2 separate regions of the Homo sapiens genome follow, and region 1 is linked to region 2. Evidence: fine-mapped QTL for protein levels in blood plasma. Region 2 holds a variant in brackets. A gene starts in the other region. All regions are shown on their forward strands.

The links. A credible set is the group of variants that fine-mapping cannot tell apart. PIP is the chance, under the fine-mapping model, that this variant and not a neighbour inherited with it causes the effect. The UK Biobank Pharma Proteomics Project read protein levels with antibody pairs (Olink). The fine-mapping took linkage between variants from a reference panel, not from the people measured, so its PIPs are less certain.
Region 1: it holds the start of CXCL11, and the variant in region 2 is the best candidate, but not a certain one, in a credible set for the plasma level of the CXCL11 protein (UK Biobank, PIP 0.69).

Annotation. Positions count from the first base shown.
Region 1 is chr4:76,028,977-76,040,307 of GRCh38, forward strand. It overlaps CXCL11 (C-X-C motif chemokine ligand 11), which reads right to left and starts at 7,094. Exons shown (of 4, transcript NM_005409.5): 1 at 6,951-7,094; 2 at 6,240-6,366; 3 at 6,071-6,143; 4 at 4,706-5,840. The coding sequence starts at 7,011. The coding sequence ends at 5,817. It also overlaps a transcript of ART3 not described here and the pseudogene RPL36P8.
Region 2 is chr2:112,733,573-112,745,272 of GRCh38, forward strand. NT5DC4 (5'-nucleotidase domain containing 4) reads left to right here. Exons shown (of 17, transcript NM_001393655.1): 17 at 5,341-5,523. The coding sequence ends at 5,364. It overlaps CKAP2L (cytoskeleton associated protein 2 like), which reads right to left. Exons shown (of 9, transcript NM_152515.5): 7 at 9,134-9,197; 8 at 7,246-7,435; 9 at 2,777-5,476. The coding sequence ends at 5,251. Among named protein-coding and RNA genes, the nearest start is that of NT5DC4, 18 kb to the left of the region's middle. The variant G/A (reference allele first, on the strand shown) is at 5,304.

The DNA of each region.
Region 1 (11,331 bases), not on the chromosome of region 2:
CATTATAATAAAGTAAATGTGTTTGGGGGAAGTATGGTGCATTTCTTTCTCCTTCCCATAAATAAGATATTTCAACAAAATAAATTAGAATTTTGTGATACTTTGTTCCATTTTTAATCAAAATCTTTAGAAAATGTCTAGTTTTAATTTTAATTGATTCATCATTGGTTGTCTTTTCTTTTGAGAAGAGGAATCTTGAGATATGATATAGTTCAGTAGTGCCTGTTATTCCATATTTTAGATTATCATTCAGTTTTCTTCAACTTCTTATTGACAGTTTGTCTTTGTGAACAATTTGAAGAAGAATGCTAAGTCAGGATTTATTATATAGAGTCTATAATTCACGTTAGGGCATTTCCAATTTAGTAGCAGTTTATTGAGCAGCACTAAGGAACTATGAATACATCTGTACTTATGGTGCCAGGATTTTTAGGACGTATTCTTCTTAGGTACTTAAGTGAAACTATGGTTTCAGTGTTATGTGATAATCTCAGACTTGCTCAATTTCATTACCAGTGTCTGGTTAATAAAATTTGCAGACAAGGCAAGAAGAAGCAACTAAAATTGCCTCATTCACCCCTTCTCCAAAAAAAACCCTAACAGTTTTTTTTGTGTGTGTACTACTTATAATCCACAGAATGTGCTGACCATATCATAAAGATTTATAATTGTTGGCTATGAAAATCTTTTCAGAAATAGATACAAAGAGGTATATTAATTCCATGTGGGCATATTAGGTCCTGTACTCAGTAGCCAAAAATAATTAAGTATAATCTTTCCTTTTCTAATAGCATTATCCAAAACTACTCCATTTGTTTGAAAGCTCTTCTTGGCTAATTAGAGGAAACAGTCCTGAAATTTTAAGTCACTGTGAGTGTTTGGCATCTTAAGTTCCATGTATTTAAAATCGAATCTGCAGTTTTTTCTGCTAAACTACATCTTCCCCCTCATATCCCTATTTCTGTTAGTGACAGAACTATTCTTTCAGACCTCAGAAGTTCAGCCTTTTTTCCTTGTCTCTTCTCTGCTTTAAATTCAGACTCAAATCCTTAACATGTTCTTTGTTTCTTTTTTGCATCTTCAACTTTCTTTTTCTGAGATGGAGTCTCGCTCTATGTAGCCCAGGCTGGAGTGCAATGACGCGATCTCGGCTCACTGCAACCTCCACCTCCCGGGTTCAAGCGATTCTCCTGCCTCAGCCTCCTGAGTAGCTGGGATTACAGGCATGCACCACCATGCCCAGCTAATTTTTTGTATCTTTGGTAGAGACGGGGTTTCACCATGTTGGCCAGGCTGGTCTTGAACTGCTGACCTCGTGATCCACCCGCCTCGGCCTCCCAAAGTGCTGGGATTACAGGCGTGAGCCACCGTGTCTGGCCTCAGCTTCAACTTTCACATCCAATCTATCACTGTCTTGATTATTTTTGTACAGTGTACTTGTCATTATATTTCTACTCTTACCAATACCACCTTAGTGTAGCCCTTCTTCTTTTTATGATAGTAAAATACAAATAACATAAAATTTACCATTTTAACCATTTAAAAGAGTACAATTCAGTGGAGTTAAGTACTTTCACAGTGCTGTGAAGCCATCACCATAATTTAGTTCCAGAACATTTTCATCACCCAGAAACTCCATACTCATTAAGTAGTTACTCCTCATTAACACCTCCCCCAAACCCCAGTCAGCTAATTTGCTTTTTGTTTTTATGGTTTTGCCTACTCTAGATATTTCCTATAAAATGGAATCATACAATATGTGGTCCCTTGTGTCTGGCTTTTTTTACTTAGCATATTTTCAAGGTTCATCCATGTTGTAGCATGTATCAGTACTTCATTCCTTTTTATGGCCGAATAATCTATTGTGTGTGTATACCACATTTTATCCATTCACTTGTTGATGGATATTTGGGTTGTTTCTGCTTTCTGGCTGTTGTGTATAATGCTGCTATGAACATTTGTGTACCAGTTTTTGTTTAAAGAGCTGTTTCAGTTCTTTTGGGTATATACCTAGGAATGGAATTGCTGGATTATATAGTAATATATAATTACTATAATTATGTTTAACTTATTGCAGAGCCAGCCCCATTACTTTTCACACCAGTGTTTCCCAAAGTGTGGGACACTACCATGTACATTGATAATAACGTTTAGTATCAGTGAATTATTCTCTTCTTAACTTCAATCCCTCTGATTAATTAAATCAGGGGGAATATTAGTATTTTTTCATTGTATTTTGTTTTATCATTACATTTTATTTCCATGGCATGTATTACCGATTTTACATGTACAGTAGTGAAAGTTTACTTTTCATGTAAATGTACGTAAAATAAAGTGGTATACAGAGTTTCTAAAAATATAATGAAGATCAAACAGAGAAATGTTAAAAAAAAATTGTAAAGATGATATGAGAATGCCTTGAAGTTTTGGAAATACAGACCTGAGATATTGCAGCTATTGCAGCAAATCCCAACTGATTTTCCTCCTCCACTCTTTCCCACTTTCAATCAACCATTCATGCAATTCCCAGAATATTTTCCAATGACTTTGATAGGGTCACTCTCTTCTTCACAAACATTTATTGAATCCCCATTTTGTACAGAGTAAAATTCAAGGTTATTTACAGTTTCATGTCCTTCATCCTTCCAACCAAACGAATCTAATTATGATTCCTAAAAATCACTTTATACTTCCTACTACTGTACATTCCCTTGTGTCATTCCTCTGCTGTAAATTCCTTTTCCCTTAGTTTATATTGCCATTCAATAGGGTCTGATATGCACCAGAAACTGTACTGTTGGCCTGGGCTACAGCAGCTTTCTTTTACACTTATGAGAGAGCAGATATTAGGCACAGGAATAATTCATTAATTACAATTGCAGTAAGTAGTATGATGGAAAAATAGAGAGTGTTATGGAAATAAATAAATAGGACACCTAATCTAGTTAAAGCTGAAGTGGTGGTTTCAAAGGCTTCTTGGAGAAAAAGTCATTTAAGCTGAGACCTAAGCAATTAGTAGGCATTAGCTTAGTGAAGAAATGGGCAGAGAGAATAGTATGTGCAAAGGTACCAAGGTGGGGAGGATCTTGGCTCAAATATGTTAATTATTAATATTTCATATATTTATTTTGCTATGAAGAACTTTAGGTGTATGTTTTCTTCTCAGTAATAATGTACTGGCCTATAATATTTAATATACTTCTTACAAATACCAATTTATCATGCAGCCTTAACTCTGTGAATTTTTTTTTTTTTTGAGGCAGGCTTTTGCCCAGGCTGGAGTGCAGTGGTGTGATCACAGCTGACTGCAGCCTCAACCTCCCAGACCCAAGTGATCCATCCACCTCAGCTTCCCAAGTAGCTGAGGTTACAGGCATGTGCCACCATACCCAGCTAATTTTCCTATTTTTTATAGAGATGAATTTTCGCTATGTTGCCCAAGCTAGTCTTGAACTCCTGGGCTTAAGCCATTCACCTATGTTGGTCTCCCAAAGTGCTCAGATTATAGGTGTGAGCCACCATGCCCAGCTGACTATGTGAATTTTTATTTTTAAAGAGACTTAAAAAAAAAATCACTGTAAGTAGTCAAAGATTAGATTCAAGTCTTTTTTTTTTTTTTTTTTTTGAGGTGCAGTTTCACTCTTGTTGCCCAAGCTGGAATGCAATGGCATGATCTCAGCTCACTGCAACCTCTGCCTCCCGGGTTCAAGCGATTCTCCTGCCTCAGCTTCCTGAGTAGCTGGGATTACAGGCACGTGCCAGCAGCCTCGGCTAATTTTTTGCATTTTAAGTAGAAATGGGGTTTCACCATGTTAGCCATGCTGGTCTTGAACTCCTGACCTCAGGTGATCCGCCCGCTTCGGCCTCCCAAAGTGCTGGGATTACAGATGTGAGCCATCGCACCCAGCCAGATTCAGGTCTTAAAACTATCCAGGGAATTTATATGGAAGTCCCATCTCTATATAGATATTTATATAGATTTATATAACAATTTATTATAAATCTATATTGTATCTATAACCTATATAATAATGCAATATAGATATATCTGATTATAATCCTATAATAAATATTTTTATTTTTCAAATGTATGGGTGCCTATATAGAGAGTACTGCTATCAGTCAAGGCTTTTGGTTACATGCAGAGAAACCAACTCTGGCTATCTTAAGGAGAAAAAGAATTTAGTTGGAGGTTGAAGAATCCACAGGACAATGGAGAATAAGTCTTGGAAAATGGACAAAGACCTAAGGGAACTAGGTGATAGGAAGGACTAGCCAGAGTCATGCTACAGGAACACACATTGGGAAGACACTACTGTAAGACTTTCATTGTTTCTCCTGCTGCTGCCAGGCTTGAAATAATTTTCTTACTAATAGTATCTTTGTGATGCCAGCTGGAGTTCAAAGTCTAGGGTAGAAACAGCATGGCTGAGTCCTTGTTGTGGCTACAGGAGAGGATCTCCTGTCTTTGGCTTCTCTCTTTTGGCCTCCCACCAACACTCACATAAGGGATTTTCTCCAAGTAAGAAGGGGGTTTGGACTATCAAGACCCCCCAAGGCCGACAAAAGAAACAACTGTCTTTCCCACCTACCCATTAAAATATATTTCTAAACAGTTTTTCATGATGACGGATAGGTGTATGTTTCTGAAATATAAGGCAAAATTGTTAAAGGCATCTCAAATGTCCTGGAAAGTATATAGATCTTTTTTTAAAAAAGAAAGGTTGTGGTAGTTTATTAGAGAAAAAAATGACTTTGATTCTTTAAACTAGTCTTGAGTATACCTAAATTTTACAGTATATAGGCATGAACAAAGAAATTGATTAGATTATGTATTTTTCTAAGAGACAGAATTACAAAAAGTAAAAGTGATTGCTAGGTATACATTTGCTTATTTTTCAACATTTTTCTTTGGTAGACAAAAACATTTTGTATTTCAGATGTGTCCAAGATATTGCTATCATTTATACAAACGGATCAAAACAAAAAGTACAGTAAACACACATATCCTAATTGCTTCAAAACATCTCAATGAATAAAAGTTGAAAAACATCAAATTAAGACTGGTGCTACTAATTTGGTTATGAAATATGTGCACTTTTGCCAGTATCCCATAGCGTATAATTTTTTTCATAGTACATTTTATGAATTACATTTAATGAATTGGTTATAAAACAAACCAAATGATGCATAAGAATGTCTCCCTACATATTGATGTGCTACATGATGTTTGGGGAAAGAAGTGTGTATTTGCATGAAAAAATGTTTGAGGAATGTTTTACGACACATAGATGCTTTTGACTTATAAGGGCTTGACTCCAGTAATAATGTCAATGTCTCCACCGTAACCACAGATAGTAATATAGCATAAAGATCAATACAGACAGATGACTTCTAGAGACAGAAATGTTCTCATAGTCACAACAGAATAGTTGTAAGCATCAAATCTAGAAGGTTCTCTAGCCTAGAAATGCATGAATGTATAATGCAACAAGTAAGAACGTGAAAGCACTTTGTAAACTCCGATGGTAACCAGCCTTTCTTAAGGTAGCTTTTCCTAGAAATCCATTTAATTGTTGGACTCCTTTGGGCAGTGGAATTCTGATTGTCATTCATTCAGGAAGACTGTATTTCTGTTTTTGGTCCTTTCACCCACCTTTCATCCTTCACATAACTGTACAAAAGTTGAAAGTCACAAAACCATAGAAAAGTCTCAGTTTCCTACTGTAGAATTCTTGTCATTTCAGTAGTCACAGTTAAACTTGTTCTAGGTTTTTCAGATGCTCTTTTCCAGGACTTCATATGTTTTGATATTTTTAAAAATTCTTTCTTTCAACTTTCTGGAATAAGAAAACAAGAGTTTTATTTACTTGGGCTGTTCTTGTTTCCCCCAGGACATCTAAAAACATGTAGTAAGAAGGGGAAGCTGTTACAACCAAGGACCCCTTAACAGAATATTTCACACAGGATCATAGCAGAATCTTTCTGTAGTTGTCCACATTATTTTCTTTTTCAAAAGATCTGTCTTGGATAAAACAGATTATAACATGGGAGTAATTTGGTAACTTACTTTGATTATAAGCCTTGCTTGCTTCGATTTGGGATTTAGGCATCGTTGTCCTTTATTTTCTTTCAGGGTAATACTGTTAAAAGAACATACAAGAGTCTTAAAGTTTAGATGCAAATACATAAACAAAAAAGCCTGCACCATTGTCATCTTCAGCAAGTTCATTACTTACATCACTTCTATTTTGTCACAGTTGTTACTTGGGTACATTATGGAGGCTTTCTCAATATCTGCCACTTTCACTGCTTTTACCCCAGGGCCTATGCAAAGACAGCGTCCTCTTTTGAACATGGGGAAGCCTAGAATAGATCATAGCATTAGTTAGTAATGCATCTGATTGCAACAGATGGCTGTGGTTTATAGCTGGTGGTGAACGTGAGCAGAATTTTCATTAAGGGTAAAGATAGTAATTTGTCAAATAGCACTTAACACAACTGTTACTGGGAAAAGTTAAGTAAGATGTTGATTATTTTCTCATTAAATTAGTAAGCAAATCGCTAACAAATGGGAAGCATGAAGGAAGTTTATTGGAGGTGAAGCTTGTTTTGCCCCCTTGATTTTATCCTCAAATATTTTCCCAGGAAGCTTGTTAACATGATCGCTATATAAAATCTTCTTAACAGACATTTAAAACTGTTGCTAAAGGCTTTTGCCAGATATTCTAGCCAAATCAAAAATTCCATGAAGTTCATAATTTCTAGTTTCAATAATCATCTCTAGTATCTTAAACATGTCCACCATTTCTGTGCTAAAGCTGTAGTAACTTCTAATCTGTGAGATTAAATAAAACTTTATCATGTCTTTTAGGATAAAAGTGGAAGAAAAGACATTTGAAACATTAGAAAAGGAACTTATAGGTTGAGAAATAAAAATTACTGCATACCTTGAACAACTGTAGCACACAATATCACAGCCAAGGCTATAGCCATGCCCTTCACACTCATGTTTGTTTTTTGCTGTTGCTGCTGGTGCTGCTGCTGCTACTTCAGCTTTGCTGCTCTTCTTGGAAGGAGTAGAAATGCTGAACATGAAAGGAAATTGATAATTGGCATATATAGAGCATTTTATACACCAGCAATCCTTTTATGGCACAGGAATTTCCCTCTTTGAGTCATGCACCTTTCCTGCTTCCAAGAGTTTCTGTTTTGTTCTCTTCTAAATGTTACTGTCCCTTCCTATTTGCAGTAGTGTTGAAAGTGATAAGAATGTGAAAGCACTGTGAAAACCCAGATGGTAACCAGCCTTCTTAAGGTAGCTTTTCCTAGAAATCCATTTAATTGTCGGACTACTTTGGGCAGCGGAATTCTGATTGTCATTCATTCAGGAAGACTGTGTTTCTGTTTTTGGTCCTTTCACCCACCCTTCATCCTTCACATATCTATACAAAATAATATTCTGAAAAGCTTTTTTTTATTATCTCACTTTTGCTTTTCAGTCCAAACTCTTATAATAGATAAGGCCTATATTATTTGACACCAGATGACCTTTATTCAATTTCATATTTTTACCTGTAAATGAGTGCCTAAAGAAGTTTCCCTGTGTTTCTGTATTTATGTCCATATTGTTTTGCATTTTCAACAATTTTTACTTTATATATTTTATTTTGTTTTGCTTTATTTTATTTTTAAATTTAATTTAATTTTATTACTTTATTTTATATTTATTTTATTCTGCAAAGCTTTCATTATAGGCAGATGGCAGGGGGCTCAGTCCTTCTTGGCAGCTGCTTTCCTCATGGCAGCCAGGACGTTGCTCAGCTCCTCCTGCCTTCTCTTGGTGCAGATGTTTGTCCCTACCCTTTTCTTGATGAATTTGAGGGCCTGTTTGACCTTGGAGACCTTCAGTAACTCCATGCCACGCCACTCGTTAGGGGTGAAGCCACACACCTCTGGGATCATGTCCCACACAAATTTAGTGAGTTTGGTCAGGCGCCCACAGTGGCTGTGCCTGGGCTTGCTCACATTCTTGGTCACCTTGTGGCCCTTGTTGAGGCCCACAGCTATAGGGTAGTGCAGTGTCATGGCTGCTGCCCTCCAATGGTGGCCATGGTGGAAAGCTACTTTATATATATTTTAGCACTGTTACTTAGTACATGAAGTTGTATGAGTTGTATTAGGGATCATAAAAAAAAGTGATCCTCTTTGCTCATGTGATAGTTTTACCTCTGAGATTCTACTTTGATGTAATTCCTATTTTTTTGTCTTTATCTTTTCCTCTTAAGCTTCCTAAATCTTTGTTTTAAGTGTGTCACTTGTAGATGTTTAAGAAAATCATATCAAAGGAGCTTTCTAATGGGTAAGCTTAATAAAATATATTTACTGTATAACTGGTAATCTGTAATTTTTAAAATGCTTCCTTGCTGATTCTTTATGTTTTCTTTGATTTCTTTCTAACTTTAAATATATTTTATTTAACTTTTTGAAGCCATTTTTGTTTTTTTTAATGAGATGGGTCTCACTCTGTCACCATTCTGGAGTCGAGTGGCACAATCATAGCTCACTGCAGCCATGAACTCCAGGCCTCAAGCAATCCTCCTGCCTTGGTCTCCCAAAGTGCTAGGATTACTGGGATGAGCCACGGTGCTTGGCCTTCCTTAAGTAATTTGAAAGGAATACATTGTTTTACATTTTGATATTAATTCTTAAAATTCTTTAAAAAGATTTTTACCTGAATTTTTCTAATTATTTACATCAACCATCAATAATATTTTTTTAGCTCCTGTCTTTGTAACATGAGAAAATCACTGTAACTTTCTTTCAAGAATTTTCTCCTATTTCCTAGTTTTACCAATAAAAGTTGGTATAATCGGGGAATTTATAGCCAGTTTATTACTTTTAGATTATTATTTTATCTTATTCAACTTCTTTTTTTGAGAATTATCATTTGCATTTTATCTTGAAATTATATATTTATTTAGATATAATCCTGCATTTAAATTCTTTAACAACCATGACTAGTCTTTAAAACCTTTGAAAGTCTTTACAGTAGTCCCCCATTAAATGAGAAATTCTAGAAATAATTCATAAGTTTTAAATTGTGCACTTTTCTGAGTAGCATGATGAAATCTCACATCATCTTGCTCCATCACTTCATCCCATCACATAGACATTTTATCATTTCACAGCATCACTAGAAGAGTGAGTATAGTACAATAAGATATTTGAAGAGAGAGAGACTACACAGTCACTTAACTTTTATTACAGAATATTGTTGTAATTATTCTATATATTAATGTTGATGCTCTTACTGTGGCTAATTTATAAATCAAACTTTTTTATAGGTATATATGTACAGGAAAAAATACAATATATACAGGGCTCAGTACTATCTGCAGTTTCAGGCACTCATTGGGGGTCTTGGAACATATCCCCCAAGGATAAGGTGAGGGGGCTACTGTATTTTAATTAATTTCCAAGTAGCTGGAATATTCTTTCCTTCTTTTCCATTAATTCATTTAACATATGTAAAGAAAGACTAATTTTCCCTCAGGAATATGGGTAAAGTAAAAGGAATGTGTTCTTGGAGCTCATAAATCCTTATCTGTTATTATTTTTTAATGTTGCTTTTCATTTTCTCAGCATTAGAAACACAGTAGAGCATAGTTGTTAATAGGGAAGGCTCTAGAGTCAGCCTGTGTTCAAATCCACCCTTGATTATTTATTTATTTATTTATTTATTTATTTATTTATTTATCTTTGAGATGGATTCTTGCTCTGTAGCCCAGGCTGGAGTGCAGTGGTGTGATCTCGACTCACCACAGCCTCTGCCTCCTGGATTCAAGTGATTCGCCTGCCTCAGCCTCCCAAGTAGCTGGGATTACAGGTGCGTGCCTCCATGCCTGGCTAATTTTTATAGTTTTAGTAGAGATGGTGTTTAGCCATGTTGGCCAAGCTGGTCTTGAACTCCTAACCTCAGGTGATCCTGCCGCCTTGGCCTCCCAAAGTGCTGGGATTACAGGCGTGAGCCACTGTGCCCAGCCCACATTCAGTTATTTATGAACAAGTTACCTCAACTTTTTGAGGCTATTTTCTCATCTATAGACTGGGGATAATAATAGTACTTTTTTTTTTTTTTGAGATGGAGTCTCTCTGTGCCACCCAGGCTGGAGTGCAGTGGCATGATCTCGGCTTACTGCAACCTCCGCCTCCTGGGTTCAAGCGATTTTCTTGCCTCAGCCTCCCAAGTAGCTGGGATTACAGGCATGTGTTACCACGCCCAGCCAATTTTTGTATTTTTAGTAGAGATGGGGTTTTACCATGTTGGCCAGGCTGGTCTCAGACCCCTTTTTCATAGGGCTGTTATAAACTAGGTATTAAAAGAGGTAATGCATATTAATCATTTAGAAAAATATGTAGCACTCAAAATGTATTAACTGCTATTATTATTATCAGTGTCCTTTCCTGAATTGGCATACCACATCTAGCTTGTTTTCAGCTGTTTTTCAGCATTAACACAAACACAACCACTTAATAAAAGATGAGTTGACATTGTTATAGCATATAAAAATATTTTAAATTATAATAACCATGAATATAAAAATAGCATACTAATCATAAAAATCACTTACAGAAAGTGCATGAATGCAATAGCATAGTTCAAATAATATAGACAAACAATAGTGAATATTTCTGCTTACTAGCTAAAGTGTTGTCATATAGCTTTGGTGTAAGACAATTTCTTAAATAGGGATTCTTAATTTTTTTAAAAAGACCCTGGAAATTATTAAACATATTTTTACATTATACTATTTTAAATAGAAAATAGACATAATTCAAATTTACATAAAACAAGACTAAACTCTTCCTTTTGCCTTCATGTGTGAATTACTACTTAGCTGTGTAGAAAAACTGTGGATCACAATTTTCTCCTTCAGTACTCTGCTGGGAGTCTTGGAATGTATCCCCCAAGGATAACAAGGGGACTACTGTATTTTATTTTCTATTGTTTTATTTTCTTCCTTACTGCAAAGGTAATATCTGATATTTTAAAAAAACATTAGAGCTGGGCATGGTGGCTCATGCCTGTAATCCCAGCAGTTTGGGAGACCGAGGCAGGCGGATCACTTGAGGTCAGGAGTTCGAGACCAGCCTGGCCAACATGGTGAAACTCTGTCTCTACTAAAAATACAAAAATCAGCTGGGTATGGTGGCGCATGCCTGTAATTCCAGCTACTTGCAAGGTTGAGGCAGGAGAATCGCTTGAACCCAGAAGGCGGAAGTTGCAGCGAGCCAAGATCGCGTCACTGCACTCCAGCCTGGGTGACC
Region 2 (11,700 bases):
AAGTTGGGTGGGAGCCTTCTTTGGCCACATGGACGAGGCTGCCTCCAAGGGATGGTGGAGTCACAAGACAGACATAGGCTGGGCTTGGCAGTAGATTAGCATTGGGCTGTCACTTGGATGGCTGATGTGAGAGAGATGCATTTCCATTTGGGACTAGTGACAGCAGCTGAACTGACATCCTCATTCTGGCATCGTCTTGAGCAGTCAGGAAATGAAGAGAACAGAAGCAGCATCTCTGTGGTAGTGAACTAGTGGTAAAAATGTGATCATTTATTTGTAGAATAAATGACAGTACTTTGGCTGTCACAGTGATTCCTGCTTGGTAAACTGGGAACAGTTCAATAATTTATCTTGCTCAGATGTGTTTCCTTATCATCACCTTAGTCCTCATTTCCTTACTTTAAATAGAGATAGGAGTTAAAAGTTCTGAACCTGGAGCCAGACAGCCCTGACTTTGAAATTGCAGGACTGACATTTATTAACTACTCTATTTCCATAACCATGTCATAAAGCTATTATAAGGATATAGTGAGATAACGGACATGGAGCTTGGCCAGAGTAAGCACTAAATAAGTGTTTTCTATGCTATTATATATATGTGTGTGTGTGTGTGTGTGTGTGTGTGTGTGTACATTAGTCAGGATTTTTTCTTTAGCAACTGAAGGAAACCTAATGAAACTGGTTTGAGAAAAAACAGAATTTATTGGTTCATATAACTAAAAAGTCCAGGGTTAGCCCAGCTCCAGGCATAGCATTAACCAGGGAGTCAAATCAATGTCATTGGACATAGCTTGCTCTCTCCAACTCTCAAGTTTATTCCATGTTGGTACTATTCTCTGGCAGGTTTTGTCCATGAGGTTATAAGATGGCTGTTCCCAAACTCCAGATTTCTATCTTTATCTTTTCAGCAACTCTACCAGGAAGCATCTTTCTAATGAAAGTCTGGGAAATGATGCCTCACTGGTTGTGACACTATCCCATCCTCCAATCAATGCCACTGGCCAGGGAGATGCCAAGTTTGGCTTTGCCAGGACTGGGTCACATGCGCATACTGGGGTTGAGTCCATTCTTCTTAACCATGTAGATTGTCAGCAGGAAATGGGTGGTAGTAGGGAAATTGGGGTGCTTTTTTTGTGAGACAGAGTCTTGCTCCGTCGCCTAGGCTGGAATGCAGTGGTGTGATCTCAGTTCACTGCACCCTTTGTTTCCCGGGTTCAAGTGATCCTCCTGCCTCAGCCTCCCAAGTAGCTGGGACTACAGGCACACTCTACCACATCTGGCTAATTTTTGTATTTTTAGTAGAGACAGGGTTTCACTACGTTGGCCAGGCTGGTCTTGAACTCTTGGCCTCAAGTGATCTGCTCACCTCGGCCTCCCAAAGTGCTGGGATTATAGGCGTGAGCCACCGCACCCAGTCTGGGGTGCTTTTATTGGAAAAGGGAGTACATGCCAGGGAGGCAAGAACATTTTTTTTTTTTTTTTTTTTTTTGAGACTGAGTCTTGCTCTGTCACCCAGGCTGGGATGCAGTGGCATGATCTTGGCTCACTGCAACCTCTGCCTCCCAGGTTCAAGCAGTTCTCCTGCCTCAGCCTCCTGAGTAGCTGGGATTACAGGTGCGTACCCCCACGCCTGGATAACGCCTGTATTTTTAGTAGAGACAGGGTTTTGCCATGTTGGCCAGGCTGGTCTCAAACTCCCGACATCAAATGATCCACCCGCCTCGACTTCCCAAAGTGCTGGGATTACAGGCATGAGCCACCATGCCCAGCCTCAGGAACAGTATTTTATAGTATGTAAAAGACTCAGCCGAGTGCCTGGCATAGTGAGCACTAACAAATGTGAACCATCATGCCTCTCCTCTGTCTTCTGGTTCATGGTCATTCTGCACAGAGATGCTATATATAATCCTCCCCCCCCTTTTTTTCTTTCTTTAAAACTTGCTTTACACTCACCTCCTCTAAAAAGCCATCCCCGAACAACATTAGACTTATTTTTGCAAAGGCCCATATTTCCACTACAATTCCCTATGAATCTCCTTCCCAAATCATTAAGGGCCCACCTTCTTTCCTTCCCACTCTCCCTCCTTCCTGCTCCCTATGTCTAGGAGCAGCTATTTACTAAACAAGAGGGTTACTGAGTATCTACAAAGAGTCCCAGAATTAGGGTGCAGTTTTCTGCAGCTGCAGTACCATCCACAATCATTTCCACAACCTTTTGTGTCTGCAAGACTCTATAGTCTGACGAGGCTGATCGAAACCTCCAATGTGCCATTTTGAAACTTATAATTATTAGACACCAATAGTTCAACCTACACTGTTATTGTTGGTACCCAGGGTAATACTGTGAGACATCCTGCAAGGAACTAGCAATAAAGAAAATAAAACTGCTCTTTTGGGAACTAAGCTGTAATGTCAAGACAATGGTTTTGAGGAAAGACATAAAACCACCATAAAGAGACAACTGACTCCTAGGCCTGGGGTCAGGGGAGGGATTTAGGTAGCAAAGATGGACCACTCTAGAAGCCAGAAAAAAAGTAAGTGCACAAGCAATGGATGGCACTGCAGGATCGATCATGAGAACCTGGTCGACGGGCTTAGGACAGTGTCTGAGGTTCAAGGCAAGAATATTCCTAACACAGGACTCACTTCAGACTCTCTAAGCCTGGTGATTTTGAATATTTGATGCCTCTACGTCCTATGTTCAGATTTTGTGATCTCTAAGCAGCCCTCTGAGCATTACTTGGCTTCACAGGTAAAGTTAACTCTAATTCTTGCATTTTGGTGACAATTTTATTTTATTAGGTATATTTAAGATTTACAACATGATGTTATGGGATACATATAGATAATAAAATGGCTGCTATAGTGAAGCAGATTAACATTATCATCTCAGTTTTTTTGTGATAATAGCAGCTAAAATCTACTTATTTAACAAAAATCCCTAATACAATTGTATTAACTTTAGCCCTATCTCTAGACTTGTTCATTTTATCTGCTATTTTGTATCCTTGGCCTGCATCTCCCCATTTCCTCTTCCCCAATCTGTGGTAAGCACTTTCTCTGTGTACTTGAGCTCTTTCTTAAAAAATTAAATATTCCATATGTGAGATCATGCAGTATTTTTCCTTGGGTCTGGCTTATTTCACTTAGCATAATGTTCTCCAGGTCCATCTATGTTGTGGCAAATGGCAAGAACTCCCTCTTTTCCAAGGATGAATACTATTCCACGGCATGCATATGCCGTATTTTCTTTATTTGTCCATTGATGGGCATTTAGGTTGTTTCCACATCTTGGCTATTGAGAATAACACTGCCACAAACATGTGAGTGCAGATATCTTTATGAGGTGATGATTTCATCTTTTTTTTTTTTGAGATGGAGTCTTGCTCTGTAACCCAGGCTGGAGTGCAGTGACGCAATTTTGGCTCACTGCAACCTCCACCTCCCGAGTTCAAGTGATTCTTCTGCCTCAGCCTCCCAAGTAGCTGGGATTACAGGTGCCCGTCACCATGCCCGCCTACTTTTTGTATTTTTAGTAGAGACGGGGTTTCACCATGTTGGTCAAGCTGGTCTTGAACTCCTGACCTCAGGTGATTCACCCACTCCAAAGTGCTGGGATTACAGGTGTGAGTCACTGCGCCCAGCTGGTGATTTCATCTTCTTTGGGTACATACTTACTCAGAAGAGGGTCAGATAACAGTTCTATTTTTAATTTCTTTAGGAGCCTCCATACCGTTTTCCATAACGGCTGCCCCAGTCTACACGCCCACAAACAGTGTACTAGGGTTCTCTTTTCTCCACAATCTCATCAACATTTATCTCATGTCTTGTTAATAGCCATTCTTATAGATGTGAGGTGATAGCTCACAGTGGTTTTAATTTACATTATTCTTATGATTAATGATGCTGAACACCTTTTCATATCTATACCTACTGGCCATTTCTTATGTCTTCTTTGGAGAAATGTCTGCTCAGGTCCTTTGCCCATTTTTAATTATTAGTTTTTCCACAATTGAGTTGTAAGAGTCTCTTATTGAAAGTCTGCTGGTATTACAGGTTTATAGCTCAGTTTTTTGAGCTTTATTATAAATCTGACTTTCAGAAATAGATCTGCTTCCCTTAAAAAAATCTAGTTCCTGGATGAGGCTGATAGACCTTTGATCAAAGTCCATTCTCCTTGGTAATGAATGCTCCTTGTTTCTTAGGACAGCCAACTGGTATATCCTTAGACAAACTCCTAATTCTCTATGCAAAGCCATTATCATGGTTTTCTATAATAAATAAGATAAACAAGCAGGAACTAATAGAAATTTAATGTTGTTTTAAGATAATACTTAAATATTAAGAAAGCTAAAATTTAAAATGTGTTGACTAGGTTTTTCTACACAATTATATTTACATAATGACTAAGGTAAAACCTTTCCACAAATAGTTGCCCAGGAGGAAGAAAAAGCAACCTACAACAGTCTCTGGGGCTTGCACTGCCTTCTCAGGCCAGCTATACCCTAGCTGAGCAAAGAACTGAAGAAGCAAGTGTCCACTCCCCACCCCTCTCCCCTGCCCCCCTTTTGTTACTTGAAGTGTTTCTGAGTAACAAATGCAAAACTAGGTTTGAATATAAAAGCTAGACGACCATGCCAATTCAGGATTGTGTTTCATCTGAGGAGACCTGGCATAGAAAAAACAAGAATTCTCTCTCATTTACAAGGATACTGTGATGAAAGTCAAAGATCACACATAAATTTATGATCTCTGAGCAAAGGCACAGCTAGCATAAACTCATCTGTAAAATGAGGGGTTTTGACTTGGCCATCTGTCAAGGTCCATTCAGCCTGTCAAGCTAGCGTCAAAGTTCAGATCTTCCACGATGAAAGAACTTGCCCTCTGCTAAGGTGGATGCAGAAAGAAAAGTCCCATTATATTGTGGGACCAACCTTCTGATATAAAAAACTATGTTGGGATTAAAGTAGATCAATAAAGTATAAATATTTATCATAGTTGTAGGGTAAATATTCAAAAGTTTGAAATTTATGTATACTGTAAAACTGGCAAACTGGTCTTAAACACATAAAGCAAAGATTTTCCCATGGGGAGAGAAAATTTGAGAGTAAGCCCAGTGAATTACTTAAGTCCTGAGCGTCCATAATCTGCATCCATGATGCCTCTCTTTTTTTCCAGGTCACTTGGACAAGAATATTTCTTGTCTTATGTTGGTTCTGAAACACCTTTTTTAAAAAAAGCATCAAGAAATTATGATTCAGGGGTTTGAAACCCCAATGTTACAGGCAGCGCCTCATTTCTAC[G/A]GAATATAAAACATTTTGTTTCTTCCACTTCTAACAGTTCATCAAGAGAAGCCACTACTAAATCGTGTTCCTGCAGCATTTCTGGGTAGCGGGACACTGCTCGCTCAATCCTCGACGAACGCCGTACAGGAGTGATAAATTTCATGTCTTGCACTTCCGGCATCCCATTTATTCTGAGAGACAGCAAGAGATGCATTAAAAACCTTATCATTTAAAAAAATTATCTTTATTATTTTTTGTTTCTTATTCAATAATAAAACAGGGAAGACATTTTAACATAGGGTGATACAAGAGATATGTCTAGAGCAGCTTTCATCTTCAGATGGCTTTTTCTAGGAGTTCGAGACCAGCCTGGGCAACATAGCAACACACTATCTTTACCAAAAAATATAAAAATTAGCTGGGCATGGTGGCACACACCTGTAATCCCAGCTACTCAGGAGGGTGAAGTGGGAGGACTGCTTGAGCCCAGAAGGTCAAGGCTGCAGTGAGCTATGATTATGCCATTGTACTCCAGTCTGGGCAACATGGCAAGACCCCAGTCTCAAAAAAAAGGCTTTTCCCTGATTTCCAGAATGTACTGGGTGGTGTCCATCTGTTCTTGGATGGTGTAAGCATAAGGATTTATTGAATGAAGTATGAAGTGTGGTTTTTATTTGAAGTCAAATATTTGGCAGTTGGTGTTCATTTATTCTATAAACTTTCAAAACAGATGACAAGTTTTAAGGAAATGGGGCCTAATACCAAATTTGGTTGAATTAATGAATTCCAAGATTCTTTCTAGCTTTTTCTTTTTAAAGACAGGGTCTCACTCTGTTGCCCAGGCTAGAGTCCAGTGGTGCAATCACAGCTCACTACAGCCTCAACCTCCTAGGATCAAGGCATCTGTCCACCTCAGCCTTTCAAGCTGGTGGGAGCACAAACGTATGCCAGCATGCCTGGCTAATTTTTTATTTTTCATAGAGTTGGGGTCTCCCTATGCTGCCCAGGCCACTCTTGAACTCCTAGGCTCAAGTAATCCTCCTGCCTCGGCCTACCAAAGTGACAGGATTACAGGCATGAGCCACCATGTGCCCAGCCTTTTCATTTTTTTTTTGAGATGGAGTTTCACTCTTGTTGCCCAGGCTGGAGTGCAATGGTGCAATCTTGGCAGACTTGCCTGCTAGTTTTCCTTAGGCTAATGTAATTAGTGGTTTTGTGAATTCTAGAGCCATTAAGAGGTAGTTTTTGGATTAACTGTTTTCATCTACTTATGAGCTGACTGTAGTTCATCCACTTATGAACTGAACTGTTTTCATCCTCTTATGAGCTGACTGTAGTGGGAAAATGGTGTGTGTCAGAGAGTTTAGGATTGGAAGAGATTCGGCTGTGCTTTCCAGGTAACTAAAACAAAGAACTGTTGTCTTGGTGCCCTTGTTTGGAATTCTTTCCAGATCATGATCAGAGAAGAGTGGTGCTACACTCACATTTTAGAAAATGACACTGACGCCCTGACATAGCTCCTTAAATTACTATGGATTCTGCCTTAAATTTATATTTGTTAAAAAATAAAACGTTTCTGACTTTATGAGCAGTCTCTGACTAGTACATACTCCACTGCTCTCCGTTCTTAGAGGGGTATTCACTGTCCCTTTTCTCCCACAGCTACAGAGTTTGCTCCCGCTTGGGACTTTGTGCCCCATCTTATCACCCCAACCATACCCAGCTGTGTCAGGACTTGCAGGAAAGGCAGATAGGATCTGCAAGTGCAGGACAAATGAGAGTGAAAAGGTAGGCGAGACCATAGGACGGGGGTGAATGCATTCTAATACCCCTCCTGACTCTGGCAGCACCTTCCTCACTGCAGGTCAGGTCTCAGTTACTCTAGATCTGTGAAGGAAAAATCGAGACTTGGACTAGAATTAAGTCTGTGAACACAAAGTCTGCTTTAGAGTTTGCTTACCTAGGGATTGGACCAATCTGTAATTTGATACCAGGATAATTATGCTGTTCTGCCTTGGCTATTCGGGGTGTCGCCGTGACTTGTTCCCTCTCTTTTGGAGAAAGACAAGACTTCACAGATTCCATCTTCTTGGCCAGCTCTTCCACTGATGTTATACTAGTTTCAGCAACTAAAGAGTCAGAAGTAATCCCTGTGTATGTAAGATCATGAAGGAAAGTAAGATTTACCAATTTAATACTTCAACTAGAAGTCAATAACATGAAAAATACATACATACAATGATTTCCCAGTGATCTTCATGGGCTCCACATACTGAATAGTGATTGATTTGAAGTGTGACTTATAACTTGTTTTTTCACGTTAAGCTCTGTAGCAGTGTCTTGCTACATCAGGCTACCCTCGTAGCCAGCCCCCGAGACTGCTGTACGTAGATTCTTGACACCCTTTCAAGACTCTGAACATATCTCCAGTCTCCTATTCACTCTCAAGAGAGCTCTCTTAGGGACTAATCACTGGCCTTCTACCCTTACACCACACCTTGGATCAATTTTCTTGACTCACTAAGGTTAACTCACACAACCTCCCAATCCCATTCCTCCCCAGGATGACCACATGGTTACTGCCTTGGACAGTGGGCAAAAACTGTCTTGCATTAATAGTTTTCATGGTAGCCCAAACACAATCACCAAAATGAAAGGAAGGAAATCAGACTGTGCCAGGCACACTGTGGCTAGAGGCTGACACCCTAAGTGAGGTCAATAGGGTGCAACAAAGGCATGGATTCCTGTCTTCTCTTTTTATTCCTTTTAAAACACTACCATGTTTTAACCAAATAACTGAATTGTAGCCTCATTCTCAAAGAATCTACTATTATCTATTTTATGTCCTTCTTACCACATGTAGTGGGTTACTTAGCTACATGACTTGATTGTTCCCCAGTTAAATCTACTCTTTTTTTTTGAGATGGAGTTTCGCTCTTGTTGTCCAGGCTGGAGTGCAGTGGCGTGATCTTCATTCACTCCAAATTCCACTTTCTGGGTTCAAACGATTCTCCTGCCTCAGCCTCCTGAGTATCTGGGATTACAAGCACGCACCACCACAACTGGCTAATTTTTCTTTTCTGTTTTTTTTTTTTTTTTTTTTTTTTTTTAAAGACAAGACAGGGTTTCACCACGTTGGTCAGGCTGGTCTCAAACTCCTGACCTCAGGTGATCCACCTGCCTTGGCCTCCCAAAGTGCCGGGATTACAGGCGTGAGCTACCGTATGCAGCCTAAATCTACTATTAAAGGAAAAAGATTTGTCACCTTTTAAGATAACAAGAAGAATCCAATTTATTTTCTAAAGATAGCTTGTTTTTTCTTTCCATTCATATAACAAGTATCGTAAGCAATTATAATGTCACTCGTGTTTGGCACAATATATGTCTCATAGAAGAGTCTTCTAAAGGTTATGACCACTGACAGTGATGGTCATCCAATTGAAGAGATTCCTGAGATAGCTATTTTTAAAGCGTAACACAAATTTAGATGAGTATGTTGGTGGGTTTATTATGATTAAACATGTAACTTAAGGCATTTCTCCTTTCTGCCTCAGTCTCTTCCAGCAAAGAGCTGTTTGTCTTCTGCCATCTAGGATTCCAAGGAAGTGGGACACTCCAGTCTAGGCTGTTTTGGTGGAAACAACCTTTGTTCAGTATTGAGTAGTGCATTTACTTGTAATAATACAAATAAGTCAGCTGATGACAATGGCTGAAAGGGCCAGGTCATGGAAACCAAGAAGTGAGAAGCATTTCAGGGGATGATTCTTTTCTTCTTTTTCCTATATGTCCTGGATGATTTTTACTGGTACAGCTAGAGAAGATGAATTTAAATTCAAAAATAATAGTACCTTCTGTGGTTCTGTTTGAGTCTTGCAAGATATTAAGAACAACTTTCCGCAACTCTTGTATTGGCTGGAAGGAAGGAAGAAAACATACAAAATCTTAAAAACATTCATGCAAAAAATTTGCTAAGGAACTTTAACTTCAAATACATGTTTTATAATAAAAGTTTCCTTTTAAAATCTCGTCTAACTATAAATCTTTTGTCTAGCTTGACAGTTTTATAGCTTCATGAGAAAAGTAAAGGAACAGAGAAAATTCTGATTAAGTGTTGGCACACTCGACTTAATGAACAGATGTATTTAAAGTTGTCCATAATGTAATTTGTCTACATCAAATTCTATTTTCCTATTGATTTGTATAATACTGTCAAATATGTATTCCTACATAAAAATTCTGGCCCAATGATGTAAAGCTAGCCACACAGAAAATGCATTTTATATATAGATATAGATATATTTTCTTGAGACAGAGTCTTACTCTGTCCCAGGCTGGAGTGCAGTGGCGCGATCTCGGCTCATTGCAAGCTCTGCCTCCTGGGTTCATGCCATTCTCCTGCCTCAGCCTCCCAAGTAGCTGGGACTACAGGCGCCCACCACCACGCCCAGCTAATTTTTTGTATTTTTAGTAGAGATGGGGTTTTACCGTGTTAGCCAGGATGGTCTCGATCTCCTGACATCGTGATCCACCCGCCTCGGCCTCCCAAACTGCTGGGATTACACGAGTGAGCCACTGTACCTGGCCCCAAACACAATGTTTTTTGAGATGGAGTCTCTGTCACCCAAGCTGGAGTGCAATGGTGCGGTATCGGCTCACCACAAACTCCACTTCCAGGGTTCAAGTGATTCTCCTGCCTCAGCCTCCCGAAGAGCTGGGATTACAGGCATGCGCCACCCCATCTGGCTAATTTTTCTATTTTTAGTAGAGACGGGGTTTCGCTACGTTGGCCAGGCTGGTCTCAAACTCCTGATCTCAAGTGATCCGCCTGCCTCAGCCTCCCAAAGTGCTGAGATTACAGGGGTAAGCCACTGTGCCTGGCCCAGATACAATCTTTGTAGGCATTTTGAGTAATTTTCTCCAGCTTTTCCTGTCTTTCTTCTTTTATTTGTTAACATACTTAGAAAAAAAAACCTTCATGGAAAAGTAATTTTCTGATAAAATTATCTGAGATAGGCTTTATTTTTCAAGTATGTAAACCATGCCATGAAGCAGAAGCTGCACTTTCCCACAAGAAAATTATAGTTGGAGGTTTGTCTTCCTTACCTGGAACTCTGTATCAAATAGATATAAACTGACAATAAAGCATAAAAGCAAAGCTTTCCGTACATTTTTTCAAAATCCAAAATAGAATTATGATTTCAGCTAAATGAATGGGAATAAATGTATAGAATATATTACAAAGAGTGAATTCTATACAACATTCATCAAGCATATTTTATATTTGTATAGCCTTCTGGTTAATGATGGTGGATTAAATATACGTTTATTTCTAATCTCTCTTGAAAATCGACTGAAAGGATAATAAAGGGATTAAGAAGAGGCAATAACCACAAAACATAGGAGAGAAGAAATGACAATAAGGTTTTGGAAGCTGCAGTGCAGAAGGAAGAGAGGTAAACAATTTGATCTACTTGAGAGAGTTGAATCCCAAGCTGGCAGTGTGGCTAAGAAACAACCTGACAGAAAGGCTAAGGAATGGGTGGTAGGGCCCAAATTAGGAGGACTCTTTAGCATCTGTTCAAAAAGCAGTCAGACCTCCAAATCCATCCTGCACCCCTAAACTCTATGCAGCCTAGTAACTGTGTCTGACTCCCTTCATCCTAACAGAAAACTGGGAATGTATTCTGCAAGTCTCTGAGGGATATCATGCAAGATTAGGATAGGGTGCTTTCTGAGAAAAGGAGATAAGCAAAAGTTTCTATGTTGAGGGTTGAGACTCCCTGCTCTCTTCTCTCCCACAGCACTGGCAGCCTGGTGTCTAGCTCCCAGGAAGGAGATTGGAACAGATTTCTCCAGATAACTTGACCAGCTTAAGAGGAAAGACCTAAAGATACTGATATTGAGGGTTTTCTAACTAGTCAACTCAGCCAGATCACCCTGTGTTGAAGCCCCATCCATGTGTCTCGGGCTTTAAATAAGCTTTTTCAGACCCACCTTTTATATGTGCAAACAGCCCAGTTTCACCAGCATCTGTGTAAAGCCTTTAAAGAATAATAGAGAACAAAACAAAAAGAACAAACAAACAATAACAAGAGAGAAAGAAATGAAAAACATTGGAGAAGAAATAGACAATGTAGGAAGAAGAAAACTAATATGGGTTCTAAAAACAAGGGATCCACCCAACTTAAGAAGGATGTAAAGGGAATCTAAAGGTGATGGTAAAGAGATCCCAGAAAGACAGCTGGTGAAGACGGCAGTAAAAAGTAACTTGTTCAGTCTGGAATAAGCCAGAAGGGTCTAGGAGAAAGCTCTTTATCTAAGAAAAAGGAATCAATAGAATATCTGATGTTTTCAAAGTATTGAGGAACTTAGACAATTAGCGAAGAGTTTGTGAATTAATTATATAATAAATACT